Linked DNA regions of Homo sapiens. The protein of the gene in region 2 interacts with the protein of the main gene of each other region in a biochemical or structural test. Each region holds a gene or a part of one and is shown on either strand. Other genes may lie near its edges.

The links. The genes of interacting proteins can lie anywhere in the genome.
Region 1: the proteins of CEP20 (region 2) and S100A11 form a complex in vitro, tested with the Homo sapiens proteins (one study listed by BioGRID).

The regions. Positions count from the first base shown.
Region 1 is NC_000001.11:152,034,002-152,041,106, forward strand, and holds the start of S100A11 (protein S100-A11), read right to left. Parts: upstream 3,004-7,105; 5' UTR 2,915-3,003; coding exon 2,912-2,914; intron 1-2,911. UniProt on the Homo sapiens protein: Facilitates the differentiation and the cornification of keratinocytes.
Region 2 is NC_000016.10:15,878,601-15,885,623, forward strand, and holds part of CEP20 (centrosomal protein 20), read right to left. Parts: intron 5,606-7,023; coding exon 5,408-5,605; intron 4,449-5,407; exon of another isoform or gene 4,421-4,448; coding exon of another isoform or gene 4,349-4,420; intron 1,289-4,348; coding exon 1,204-1,288; intron 1-1,203. UniProt on the Homo sapiens protein: Involved in the biogenesis of cilia. Required for the recruitment of PLK1 to centrosomes and S phase progression.

The DNA of each region.
Region 1 (7,105 bases), on a different chromosome or scaffold from region 2:
TCCAGGTGAAATATATGGAAGGTAAATGTGGAGCATTGCTGGCACGTTTAAAAGCAGTAGACTGCCTAGATGAGAGTGACGGTGACAAGGTTTACTCATATTTTTAAAATGTGTGGATAAATACATGTGTAACTCTATATCCACAAATCCATATGCACACCAAACATTGTCTATAGGTTAATAATTTCTTATTTTCCAAGAGTGTATGGAGGCTTTTGTGATTAATGAAATGTCAGTTCTTTTTAAAGCAATACCGAATTCCTGGGACTCACACATTTCCTTAGAGAAAACTAAAAGCATAGCTATCATTGTGTATGCAGTGGGAGATAGAACTTTTTAGATGTTTGAAAATGGCTTTCATATTTAAGAGTTAGGAACCATTAATCTTAGATGTGAGGAAACGGACAGGAGAAGGGAATGGATATGGCAGAGCCAGCCCTGGAATCTGGGCCTCCCAGTCCCTTTCTGCAGTCCTTAGCCTTGCAGGCTTCCACTTCCTGGTGGGAAATAGTGACAGAGAAGGTGGAGCTTCTCTGGAGGTCACTCCAAACCAGGAAGCTCTCAGGTTGCTGCTTACACAGCATCTACAATGTAAGAGATTTAAATCCTGTACTGGGCTCTTTCCTCACAGCAGAATTTTTCAAGGAAATTCTATAGGGCCCAGTCATCCGGTTCCCCAAGGGGACTTAGGGTCCCAAAAGTGAGGAGCTGTTGGCCTCCCTCTGGTGGGTAGAAGCCGCAATTACAGACTTTCTGGGAAACCGGCCTGGCCACACCCTTCCTCTGAGACTTTACCTACTAGCGTTAACAATGATTTATGTTTGGATGGTGACATTTGCAACTTAGCATTTAGCCTTTCGTTTGTTCTTAGGATGGACTTCCTGGAGGCCAGAGCTAGAGGCTTTCTCACTCCGTAATTAACACGTGCTAAGAACTGATCTGAGCCCTTAGCTACACAGCTGCAGATTGATTCCTCCTTCCTGTACAGCCTTTATGCTGCAGAGATCCTAGCTGAGTCTTGCCTCCCATTGCATCTTACAGCGTTAGAACCCCTGAACCCTAAGAGAGGTGGACTTTTTCCCAAGAATCACATTGTTGGAGGATGATTGTTTTTGTTTTGCTCTAAATTGAACTTTTCATTAAGAAAAGTGTTGGTAGGTTCAGGGGCCTTTAGGGGAGAAACAAAATACCACAGCCTAGAAACAGATGTGTTTGTTCTGTTACAACATGCCCTTCATATCAGGCCTAAAATCTCCCTGTCTTACTAAGGTATCAGATGACAGGAAGGAGACTGGCTGGGAGGCCACACCAGGCTGAGGAGCATGGGCTTTGTCACCTTTCTCTGGAACTACAGATTCTCCCCCTGCCCCTTTTCCTTCCAGAATGCAGACAGTTTTGCTTTTCCAGTTTCACAGTGCCTTTCTGCTTCACATTTTTCTCTCCTTAACATCAGTCTTGGTGTAATTTAGAGATTATTTTCTTTTGAAAACTGTTGCTGTTGCTATCAGCCACAAGGAGAAAATTAAAACCTCTTTGCATTTCCTCCCAGAGGTAATTCTCCAAAGTGAAAGAAAGAGACACAATTATCAAATTACTAAAATGGAACGGCATAATTTGTAGAGCTCCAGGGCACTTTGGAGATGGGTCCTGAGGACGCCCAGAAACCGGAAAGCTCTGCCCAGGGTGGCGCAGTGGCTGAAGGAGAGGAGAACCGGCGCTCTCCACACCTCATGGCACTCTTGGAGTCTTACTTGGTGGGGATGGCGATAGCAAGGAGCAAACATTATGATAAACGGATACTGTGAAATAATTTTTAAAAATGCATGCTAAGCGCTCAACATTTGAGGAAAGAAAAAAATACGATGAAAAAGACGTAGCAATTTTAAAAACCTCAACTATTGTCTTCTCATTCTTAACCAACACCCTCCGGAGCTTTCTGTCCCTGCTGTAGCAGGACTGCAACCCCAGACAGTATGGAAGGGAATGGGCGTGGCTCTGTTCCAATACTTCATTTATGGACGCTGAAGTTTGATTTCCACATAATTTTCACATGTCAGAAAGTATTTTTCTTCTTTTGATTTCTTTCAATCATTTACAAATGTAAACTTTATTCTTAGCTTGTGGGCAGAACAGAAAACCCGACTTGGCCCGCGGGCCAGTTTGCTGACTCTCCACTAAGGAGAGGTAAAGAAAGAGATTTTGGAGGTGGAATTATGGAAAATATGAGTTCAACTGGGAGATGAAAGGAGATAAGAAGAGAAAAATAAGTTACGGAGTGAGTGCCTAAATAGATGGTGGGGTAAAAGGAAGAGGAAGGAGGAGAGGGCTCAGCTGGGACCGGGTTCCTCCCACATTCTTGGCCGCGGCGCTGCGGGCGGCGACGGGCTAAAGTTTCAGTCCCGTTGGGTCTTGGCCGTCTGCCGGGTGCTTACTGAAACTTTGATTTTCCCTGGGGCTAGACGACCAAGTTCTAAAATGTCCCTTTTCTGGTGTACAGAAATAACTAGTGACCCCTCGCAGCTTTCCAGCCCCCTGCCTTAAACTTGCTCCTAGGCGTCTCTGGGCTCCCGGGAGACCGCGGGCGAGGGGCTGGAGGCAGTGACCCACGACGGGTCCCCCCCCCGCGCGGTGAGCGGCCAGCACTTCCTCTTCCCCAGCCCTGGGCCTTGTCGTGACTGGGAAGGCTAAAGAACCTCCGCTGCTACCCTAGGCGGCCACCCCAAGGATGATTTTAGGGCTTCATCCTTCCATCCCTTCTTCCCCAGTTCCCTCCCACGAGGCTGATTTTTCCTGCTGTTTCCTGCCACGTCCACACATAAGTCAAAGATAAAGTCTGCTGGGAAGTATGTGGGTTTTTTTTCTTTTCTTTTTCTTTTCATGTAAGAAGAAGAAGAAGAAAAGTGAGGCTTACCATGTTGGAGCTGAGCGAGGCGCGGGAGGCTGTGGCTGGGAGCGGCGCTGAGAGCTCTGTGCGCGCGGCGTGCGGGTCTGGAGCCTCTCCTCAACCCACGCCCTTCCCGGCCCAGCCTTGCCCAAGCCTTACTCAGACAGCTTCCGCGCCTGCCCCGCCCCTCCCCGCCTCCCGGGCTGGGCCTGGGACCGCGGCCGGCGCTAACCACAGAACTGAGCTTTAAGACTCAAATAAACCCACCGTCCTCTCCAGCGATTTAAGCAGTCTCACTCTCCCTCCTTTCCCTCTTTTCCCTCCTCTTTCCCCCCGGCCCCCTCCACCCCGTCCTGTGATTCCTGAAGATTTTTGACTTTTTAGAATTATAAGTTTTGCACAGTAGTCTTCGGGAAGTCTGTCCATGTCCGTGGGTCTTTCCCATGTATGAGCTCATTCTGGGCATTTAGGTTAGATAGGCAAAAAAGGTCTCTTTTGGAAACAGCAGTGGGCCGGGCGCGGTGGCTCAGGCCTGTAATCCCAGCACTTTGGGAGGCCGAGGCGGGTAGATCACATGAGGTCAGGAGTTTGAGATCAGCCTGACTAACATGGTGAAACCCCTGTCTCTACTAAAAATACAAAATTAGCCTGGCGTGGTGGCACACGCCTGTAATACCAACTACTTGGGAGGCTGAGGCAGAAATATCGATTGAACCCGGGAGGTGGAGTTTGCAGCGAGCTGAGATCGCGCCGTTGCACTCCAGCCGCCTGGGCAACAAGAGCGGAACAATGTCTCAAAAAACAAACAAAAACAGGCCGGGCGCAGCGGCTCACTCCTGTAATCCCAGCACTTTGGGAGGCCGAGGCGGGTGGATCACGAGGTCAGGAGATCGGGACCATCCTGGCTAACGCGGCAAAACCCCGTCTCTACTAAAAATACAAAAAATTAGCCGGACGTGGTGGCGGGCGCCTGTAGTTCCAGCTACTCGGGAGGCTGAGGCAGGAGAATGGCGTGAACCCCGGAGGCAGAGCTTGCAGTGAGCCGAGATCGCGCCACTGCACTCTAGCCTGGGCGACAGAGCAAGACTCCATCTCAAAAACAAACAAACAAAAAACAAAACCAAGAGTGTTAGTTAGGACAGAGTGCGGGTCAGAATTGTAGACAAGTTCCTAGGAGTTGGGGCTCTCTATTGCTCCACAGGGAAGATATTTAACAGTAAACAGTGGTGAGTATTGCCAAATCAATTGCCACGGGATTACTGGGGATTATTGTCAAGGGACAATTGCCACCCCTCTCTCTCAAACTTTTCTGTAAACTGAGGACAGCCACAAAGACAAAATCCGAAAACCAAACTACTGCACTTAAAAATTGATCCGTGCTAGTAAGGCATTTATCTGTGTGCAGTTTGCAATGAAATTAGGAGTTGTATTAAGAATCAGAAGACTTGGGTTCCAGTCTTGTGTCTGTTACTTCATTGCAATACTTTTGACCAGACTTGTCACTCCTTTGAGCTTCCACTTCCTTATTTGTAATAGGTCTTGAGATAGGCCTTTCCTGTTTCATAAGATTGTTAGGACTGTCAAGTAAAGTGAGGGCTTAGAAAGGTCTCCAAAAACTGCAGAGTAGACGCAAATGAAAGATAATGGGCTATAGGCATTGTGTGAACTGCTTCCCTGCACCTGCTCTCACAGGTGCCCTGAGCACGTGAGACAAATCTCCATCTCAGTTCTCAGCTACTCCAGACCCACATTTTCAGTTACTTGTTTATGAATCCACTTGAGAGTCCCACCTGCACTTCAGACTCAATAATTCAGGAATAACTAGTTTTCCCCAAACCTGTTTCTGTCTTCTCTGCTAAGGGTACTATCACTCTACCATTTTCCCTGCTTGAAAGCATTGGAGCCACTGAGTCTAAATGCCTTTTTGACTCACAGTTCTTATCAAGTGCCAGGTAATAGACTTCAAACCTTTGGTGGTGGGGGGTGTTACATGAACGGCTGCTGGGGTTCCTTAATACCTTAAAGTTACATGTAAATTTTTTGCATAAGAGAAATTTTTCTGGCGAAGAGTCCACATCTTTCATCTGATTCTCAGAAAAATTTATGATCCCAACATATTAAGGAATCATTTGTCTAAATTACTCCATAACTCAATCATGAGGCCTTACACACCACAGTTCTTTTCTTTTTTTTCTTTTTTGAGACGTTGTTTCACTCTTGTTGCCTAGGCGGCTGGAGTGCAACGGGGTGATCTCAGCTCACTGCAACCTCCGCCTCCCGGGTTAAAGCGATTCTCCTGCCTCAGCCTCCTGAGTAGCTGGAATTACAGGTGTGCGCCACCACACCCTGCTAATTTTTTGTGTATTTTTAGTAGAGACGGGGTTTCACCATGTTGGTTATGCTGGTCTGGAACTCCTGACCTCGTGATCTGCCCTCCTCAGCCTCCCAAAGTGCTGGGATTACAGGTGAGAGCCACTGCGCCCGGCCACTATAGTTCTTTTTAAGAGAAAATGCCTCACTTAGAACCTGTGCTCAAGGGGCAGCCCAGGTGGCCAAGTTTTGCATGATTTGACACACTGTGACCCTGTTAGAGTGGACTGGGTTGAAGTTAGTCTGGACACCAGCACTGCCAATCTATAGGATGGCTGGTAGTGGATGTTTCATGACATAACATGGAAAGATGAACTAGGGCCAAAAAGCTTCTTGTTTTTGGGAAACTGAAATTAGAAGCACATAGAAAATTAGGCATTTAGAAGAGCTGAAGCTGAACATTTGCATAGACAGAACCATGAAGTCATGGCAAATAAAACTTATGGAGAAGACATCATGAGTAAGTGGAAGCTATGAAATTTGGAAGAAATAGACAGAGGGGAATGTAAGCCAATTGCTAACTGTAAATTAAAGAAAAGGCTACTTGGGTGTTCGCTGAATTGTGAAAATGGTGAACCACTGGGAGTGAAGAGCCTGCAGTCTGACTTCATTAGCGTTTTTGTTCTTCCTAAACCTAGTTGTTAGTTTTTCTTACTTTCTCTATGACATTTATTCTTTCAATAACTCTTCAGCCCCATGAAGTAGCTTGAATGAAACCAAAGGAAAAAGCTAAACCAAATAAGTATGACTTGTTCAGAGCCAGGTTGGGGGATCAGCCCCACCCAGTTAGGGCTGCCTGCTTGACAGCTGCTCCCCAGGGTCACGCTGAAAGGGGTTCATTTCTAGGTTATCAGTCAAAGGAGGGAGAGTTCAGGAAAGGTAGCAGGCAAGGTAGATTTGTCAAAGCAGGCAAACAATGAATCAAACTGAAGGGCTGGAGCCAGCAAGGAGCTGAGGATGAGTGAGAGCTGGTAAACTGACAGCAAGAGACAAAAATAATATACAGATGGGTAAAAGGGCTTATCAGGAAATAAATGTAGGAACTTCCATGGCTCAAGGTAATTCTTATGTGCAGTCTGATCTCTGTGTAGCATTGGGTTGATTCTGAAATGGACACAGTACAGTGACAAATGCAATAACAGGGGTGTGACCAAGACACAATGACAAATGCCAGGAAAGAAATGAGAGGTTAACTCTGGGAGAGGAGGGAAAGTATCCTGGAAAAGTGCTGCTTGAGGTGGGTATTGAAATATAAATAAGAATTCACCAGGTGGATGAACATGGTAGTGAAAAAAGGTGAACTCAGGCAAGATAGCACAGTATTTACAGCCACAGGCTCTGCCACAAGACTGGGGTTCAAATCCCAGTGTCACAACGTATTAGCTATATGAAATCTAGCAAGTTATTTGTTGGCTCTGTGTCTCAGTTTCCTCATCTGTAAAGTGGAGAGAATAGTAGTTGTTGTGAGGATTAAGAGTTAATTCATGTTTAATGCTTAGGACTTACAGCAGTGTCTTCAGAGGAAGTTTTACATAGTGGCTTGTGCAGAATTAAGGTTCGGGATGAAACATTGTTCGTGTTCTCAGTACTTGCAGGTGGTTCAGTAGAACCAGACTTAGGGTATGGGGTGATGGTAAATGTGAGGCAGAAGCTGTGGGATGTGAGATGGGAGAGACAAGGGTCAGCTCATTAGGAGATATACTTGGAAGTTTGGATTGTAACCTTAGGGTTATGTATCAAGGAACATTGAAGATTTTTAAGCAGGACAGTGACGTGATCCCCTTCACTTTTGGAACTGTAGAAAACATGTTCTAGAAAGAAGAAAGACTAGAGGCAAAGAATATTAGAATA
Region 2 (7,023 bases):
ATTCTCATGCCTGAGCCTCCCTAGCAGCTGGGACTACAGGCACACGCCACCATGCCTTGCTAATCTTTTTGTTATTTTTAGTAGAGATGGGGTTTCGCCATGTTGACCAGGCTGGTCTCAAACTCCTGACCTCAGGTGATCCACTTGCCTCAGCCTCTGAAGTGCTGGGACTACAGGCATGAGCCACCACGTCTGGCTAGAGATGGGGTTTCCCCATGTTGTCCAGGCTAGTCTTGAACTCCTGAGCTCAAGTGATCCTTCCACTTCAGCCTTCCAAAGTGCTGGCATTACAGGCACGAGATACCTCACTTGGCCTTAAGAACTTTTAGGATGAGAAAACGTAAGGCTTCAAAGAAAGTTCTAGATTTAAAAAAAGGCTGCTTTAAGCTATGTTCTCAGGTCTCCTATGTACTTTTTTTTTTTTTTTTGGCTATACAGGGACTCTCCAGAAAAAGTTTAAGAAACACTGAAATAGAAAAAAACTAAGAAAACTAGAAAGTGGTCATCCTCCTTTTCAAGAGCATAGTTGGTGAGAGGAGGTACACAGAGGGCAAAGGACAGAGTAATAGTAACGAAAGCAGTGGGCTGATTCAGTAATCTTGGTAGAAAAAGGTATTCGAGCAGAAGCTTGGGGTTGGAAGTTCATAGTTTTTGTTTTTGTTTTTGTTTTTGTTTTAGGAGAGGAGAGATCTGAGTACATTCCTAAGTTGGAGTGAAGGAAGAGTTAAATATGAAGAAAACAACTGACAAGGCAAAGTCTCAGAGGCCAGGCATGGAGGGCTCACACCTGCAACCCTAGCACTTTGGGAGGCCAAGGCAGGAAGATCACTTGAGGTCAGGAGTTCGAGACCAGCCTGGGCAAAAAAGCGAGGCCTTGCCTCTACAAAAATAATTTGAAAATACAAATAAAAGTTGAAATTATAAATTAAAAAACAAACAAAGCCTTAGAAGGACAAAGGATCAAGAAGTCAAAAGGAGCTAACTCCAGAAAGAAGATGCTGAGTCACTCTGAAGCCATGTAATTGTAGCTTCAGCAAACACAGATCTCATCTGACTTATTCACTGCTGCACACCCTGGATTTAGGACAATGCTTGACACACACTAGATCTGAATAAATACTTGAATTAAAATGAAGTAAAACCACCATGGTGCAATTATGACTCAATACAATATGTGGAAACTTCTTTAAAAAAATGTCTTACATTGTATTATCCTTTGATTCTTCAAATGCATTTAGTTCATGGATGAGAAACTGTCTGTCCAACGGAACTACAGGTTGACCAGATTCTGGGAGAAATAAATTCATGAGAACACTCAGTCTATTAAACTAAAAAGCAAATAAGATTTTGAAAAGAATCACATTTACCAGACATACACTTTTTAGATTTTGGAAGAATGATGACAACACACACCAAGACAGATCAAATTGCCTGTGATTTTATGACTTTCAAAATATCTCTTTTGTTAAATGCATGTCTTAATACAGTTTAACATAAATTCACTTTTTAAATTCCCCAGTGTTTGGTTGGAAAAATACCATTTCTATATCCAAATTATAATACTAAATTTTGGAAGTCTGTTTATCAATAACTTATTTTTGAAAAGAATATCCACTTGGTGACAATACTTATAAATAAAAATTAAAGTTAACCTGAAGTGTGGGGCAGCTGGAACTTTCACACTTTGCTGGTGGGAAAGCACAATGGTACAGGCACTTTGGAAAACAGTTGAGCAGTTTTCTTATAAAGGTGAGCGTGCACTTAACCACACAACCCAGCAATCTCACTCTTAGCTTTCTACCCAAGATTAATGAAAACTTATGTTCTCACAAAAACCTGTATGTAAATGTTTATGGCAGCTTGATTCCTAACTGCTAAAACTAGAAACAACTCAATGCCCATCAACTGGTCATAGATGAGCAAACTAGCACAGCCACACAATAGAACAGTGTTCAAAGGAAAAACAAACATGGCTGAATCTTGAATGTATTACACTAAGTGAAAAAAGGCAGACTCAAAAGGCTACATCATGTACGGTTCCATCTACAGCAAGGGTCCCCAACCCCCGAGCCACAGATTAGAAACTGGGCCACACAGCAGGAGGTGAGGAGTGGGCAAGCAAGTGAGGGAAGCTTGATCTGTGTTTACAGCTGCTGCCCATCACTAGCATCACTGCCTGAGCTCAGCCTCCTGTTGGCAGAATTAGATTCTCATAGAAGCGTGAACCCTATTGTGAACTGCACATGCGAGGGATCTGGGCTGTGCACTCCTTATGAGAATCTAAGGCCTGATGATCTCTCACTGCCTCCCATCACCCCCAGATGGGACCATCTAGTTGCAGGAAAACAGGCTTAGGGCTCCCACTGATTCTACATTATGGTGAGTTATAATTATTTCATTATATATTACAACACAATCATAGAAATAAAATGCACAATAAATGGAGTATGCTTGAATCATCCCGAACCATCCTCCCAGGTCCATGGAAAAATTGTCTTCCATGAAACCAGTCCCTGGTGCCAAAAAGGCTGGTGATATCTTGATTGTGATCTGGTAGTAATTACACAACTGCAGGCATTTGACTAAAGTACAGAACTGTACAGTTTAAAAGGTAAATTTTATTGTATGTAAATTATATCCCAGTTTTTTAAAAAAAGCCAAACCATTTAATATGAAAACTTGACTACTGTCACTATATTTCATTCTAGTGAATCCCAAGTCCCCACTATTTTCATAATTTCTTCTTTTCTGGGTGTAACTGGTATCATACAGCCATCTATAACAAACAAAGGAAAGCAGAGATGCTGATATCAAAGATCCTTAAACCATAAAAATCATGAGTCTTTATGTAGTTCAGACGTATGTTTAATATTAAATAAAGGATCTGTAACGAAAAATTCTAACTTCACAAAGAATTCATTCTCTCTTGCAAAATCTACTTCCTGGCCTCGCTTCTTTGCTGAGGCATGAAGTAGTCAAAGCAGAGATGGAACCTGAAACGAGGGAATCCGATGACACACATTCAGGGTGCCTCAGACCAACCCCCAGCTGCATCCCCCACCCCACCAAGTCCAGGGGTAACCAGGATTCTGACTTATTTATATCCATCCAGTCTCTCCTCACTTTTTTGAAAGAAGACATTTAAAAGTCAGCAGAAGATATTAAAAATATTCTCACCACTCAATAACTGTTACACTTGAAGAGCAAATTTATTTCTCAAGAAATAAAATTCAACAGATAAAGGGAATTTATCTTTATCTCCCCACCCCCAACCCCCAATATCATTCTCTGCCTCCTATCACTAGGATGAGTTTGGAGTTTCCCGCTGCTAGAGTCTGGATATTTGTCTCCGCCCAAATCTCATGTTGCAACGCACTCCCCAGTGTTGGAAGTGGGACCTGGCGGGAGTTGTTTGGGTCATGGGGGTGGATCCCTCATGGCCTGGTGCTGTCCTTACCACAGTGAGTGGGTTCTCATGAGAACAGGTCATTTATAAGTGTGTGGCACTAACCTTCCCCACCCTTGGCCCCTGCCTTCACCATGTAACGTGCTTGCTGCAGTGAGCAAAAGCTCCCTGAGGCCTCCCAGAAGCTAAGCAGATGCCAGTGCCATGCTTGTACAGTCTGCAGAACCGTGAGCCAAGTAAACCTCTTTTCTTCAACCGGGTGCGGTGGCTCACGCCTGTAATCCCAACATTTTGGGAGGCCGAGGAGGGCGGATCACGAGGTCAGGAGACTGAGACCATCCTGGCTAACGGTGAAACCCTGTCTCTACTAAAAATACAAAAAATTAGCTGGGCATGGCCTGTAGTCCCAGCTACTTGGGAGGCTGAGGCAGGAGAATCACTTGAACCCAGGAGGTAGACGTTGCAGTGAGCCGAGATCAATCCACACTCCAGCCTGGGTGACAGAGCAAGACTCTGTCTCAAAACAAACAAACAAACAAACAAACATACAAAAAAACCTCTTCTCTTCATAAATTACCCAGTCTCAGGTGTTTATTTATAGCAATCCAAAAACAACCTAATATACCAGCCTAGTCCTTTATAAATACCATGCTTTTAGATACATACATTTGTAAATGTACCTAAGCACTACATAGTAGTAATATTTCAAAGTTTTATCTCCATTATATCTATCTATCTATCTATCTATCTATCTATCTATCTATCTATCTATCTAGATACACACACACACACACACAAATAGACATATATCTACATATCTATATATAGACAGGGACAGTTTTTTTTCTTTTAAGAGACAGGAGTTGGACCAGCCTGTCCAATATAGTGAAACCCCGTCTCTACTAAAAAATACAAAAATTCGCCGGGCCTGGCAGCACACACCTGTAGTTCCAGGTACTCGGGAGGCTGAGGCAGGAGAACTGCTTGAACCCAGGAGGCGGAGGATGCAGTGAGCTGAGATCACAATAGAGTGAGACTCCGTCTCAAAAAAAAAGAAAGAAAAAAAAGACAGGGGTTGGGTGCAGTGGCTCATGCCTGTAATCCCAGCATTTGGGGAGTGTGAGATAGGTGGATCACCTGAGCCCAGGAGTTCAATACCAGGCTGGGCAACATAGTGAGAGCTCATCTCTATAAATAATAAAAAAATTTAGCTGGGCATGGAGGCATGCACCTGTGGTCCCAGCTACTCAGGAGACTGACGCAGGAAGACTGCTTGAGCCCAGGAGGTGAAAGTTGCAATAAGCCATGATCGCACCACTGCAGTCCAGCCTTTGCAACAGAGTGAGATTCTGTCTCTGGAAAAAGAAAAAAGAGACAGGGTCTCTCTCTGTTGCCCAGACTGGAGTGCAGTGATGCGATCATGGCTCACTAAAGCCCAGAGCACATGGGCTCACATGATCACCCCCTCCCCGACCCCTGCTCAGCCTCAGCTAGGACAACAGACACGTGCCACCATGCATGGCTAATTTTAAAAACTCTTTTCCAGAGATGGGGTCTCCCTGTGTTGCCCAGGCTGGTCGCGAACTCCTGGGCTCAAGTAATCTTGCCTCGGCCTCCCAAAGCACTGAGATTACAGGTGTGAGCCACCTACCCAGCCTATTTTTTAACAAATAATATACTTAATCAGCGTATATTTTTAAAGCTTAATACACAGGAAAAAACTGGTGGCAAACAGGACAAAACGTCAACAATTGTTTATTCTCGGTTACAGGAATTATAGATGATTTTTCCAAGTATATGCCTAGTTTAAGTGATTATTTAGTTATGTATTTTCTCTTGTAAGAATCTGTTTAAGCTACAGAAAGAACCCATGTGATTTTTGTGTCCCAGTCACCCAGATGGCACTATCTGGTAAGGGAATTAGATTTCTAGGATAAACAGTTTCTGAGAATTGGGGAAAGGGGAGAAACAGATTTTATGTGATAAATAATAACCACTTACCTGCTATGAGGACAGATGCTGTATACTTATATTTGTTGAATTCTAAATACTCTCGAATTAATTCATTAATTAGAAGGTTTTCATGAGACAATGATGGTCGGGGTTCACGGTCATCATCTAGGGCATTGAAAACTTCAGCTCGGATCCTTGCTTTTAAATGCCCTAATACCCCCTTTTTTTCCAAGGTGTCCTTTAAAACTGTTCGATATAAAATATTAAGGCTTCAGTTACAGAGTAAATTTGTCATTCTTAGGCATACTTTGAAAAGAAATGTTGAAAAGGTAAATGGTACAAAAACAGCTCTCAAGCAGCTCTTAATCTAAACATTGTGACAAATTATTAAACAATTACACTACCACCAGCCATGTTTATACTAAAACATATAGTTCTCATGTTGCAGTGATTTAGTCTTAATATATTTGAGCAAATTCAAGTTTATTCCTACATCATCAGCACTGTCAGGGGCTGTAGTCTAATACATATTCTTTTTTATTTTATTTATTATTTTTTTTGAGACACAGTCTCGCTCTTTCACCCAGGCTGGAGTGCAGTGGCACGATCTCAGCTCACTGCAACCTCTGCCTCCCAGGTTCAAGCAATTCTCCTGCCTCAGCCTCCAGGGTAGTTGGGACTACAGGCACGTGCCACCACGCCCAACTATTTCTTTTTTGTATTTTTAGTAGAGACGGGGTTTCACTGTGTTGGCCAGGATGGTCTCAATCTCCTGACCTCGTGATCCACCCACCTCAGCCTCCCAAAGTGTTGGGATTACAGGTGTCAGCCACCGTGCCCGGCCAATACATAATTCTTTAGTGAGGGGAAAAGGCGGGGGATAGGATTATAGTTGCTTACTGAGACCTGAACTTAAGCCCCAGTCTCTCATATATTTTCAAGAGTGTCTGCCACTGCACACAGGTTCTGCTTGTCACTAACAACCTCTGGTCTAGAAAGATGATTAAAGAAAACAACTACATTCCATAAAAGAAGTCTGTTGGGTTACTGTGTAAAAACCTTGATGGCAGGGCATGGTGGCTCATGCCTGTAACCCAGCACTTTGGGAGGCTCAGGCGGGCGGATCACGAGATCAGCAAATTGAGACCATCTTGGCTAACAAGGTGAAATCCCCCTCTCTACTAAAAAAATACAAAAAATTAGCCGGGTGTGGTGGCACGCACCTGTAGTCCCAGCAACTTGGGAGGCTGAGGCACAAGAATTACTTGAACCTGGGAGGTGGAGGGTGCAGTGAGCTGAGGTGGTGCCACTGCACTCTAGCCTGGGCGAAAGAGTGAGACTCTGTTTAAAACAACCAACCAACCAACCAACCAAAAAAAAAAACACAAACCTTTGATAATCCACAACGCTTTAGGGAGTGAAAAGGTGTTGGGTTTTTCATTGTTGTTATTTTGAAACAATCTCGCTCTGTCGCCAGGTTGGAGTGCAGTGGCACGATCTCGGCTCACTGCAATCTCCAGGCTCCCTGGTTCAAGCAATTCTCCTGCCTCAGCCTCCCAAATAGCTGGGATTACAGGTGTGCGATACCACGACTGGCTAATTTTTGTATTTTTAGTAGAGACAGGGTTTCACTATGTTGGCCAGGATGGTCTCCATCTCCTGAC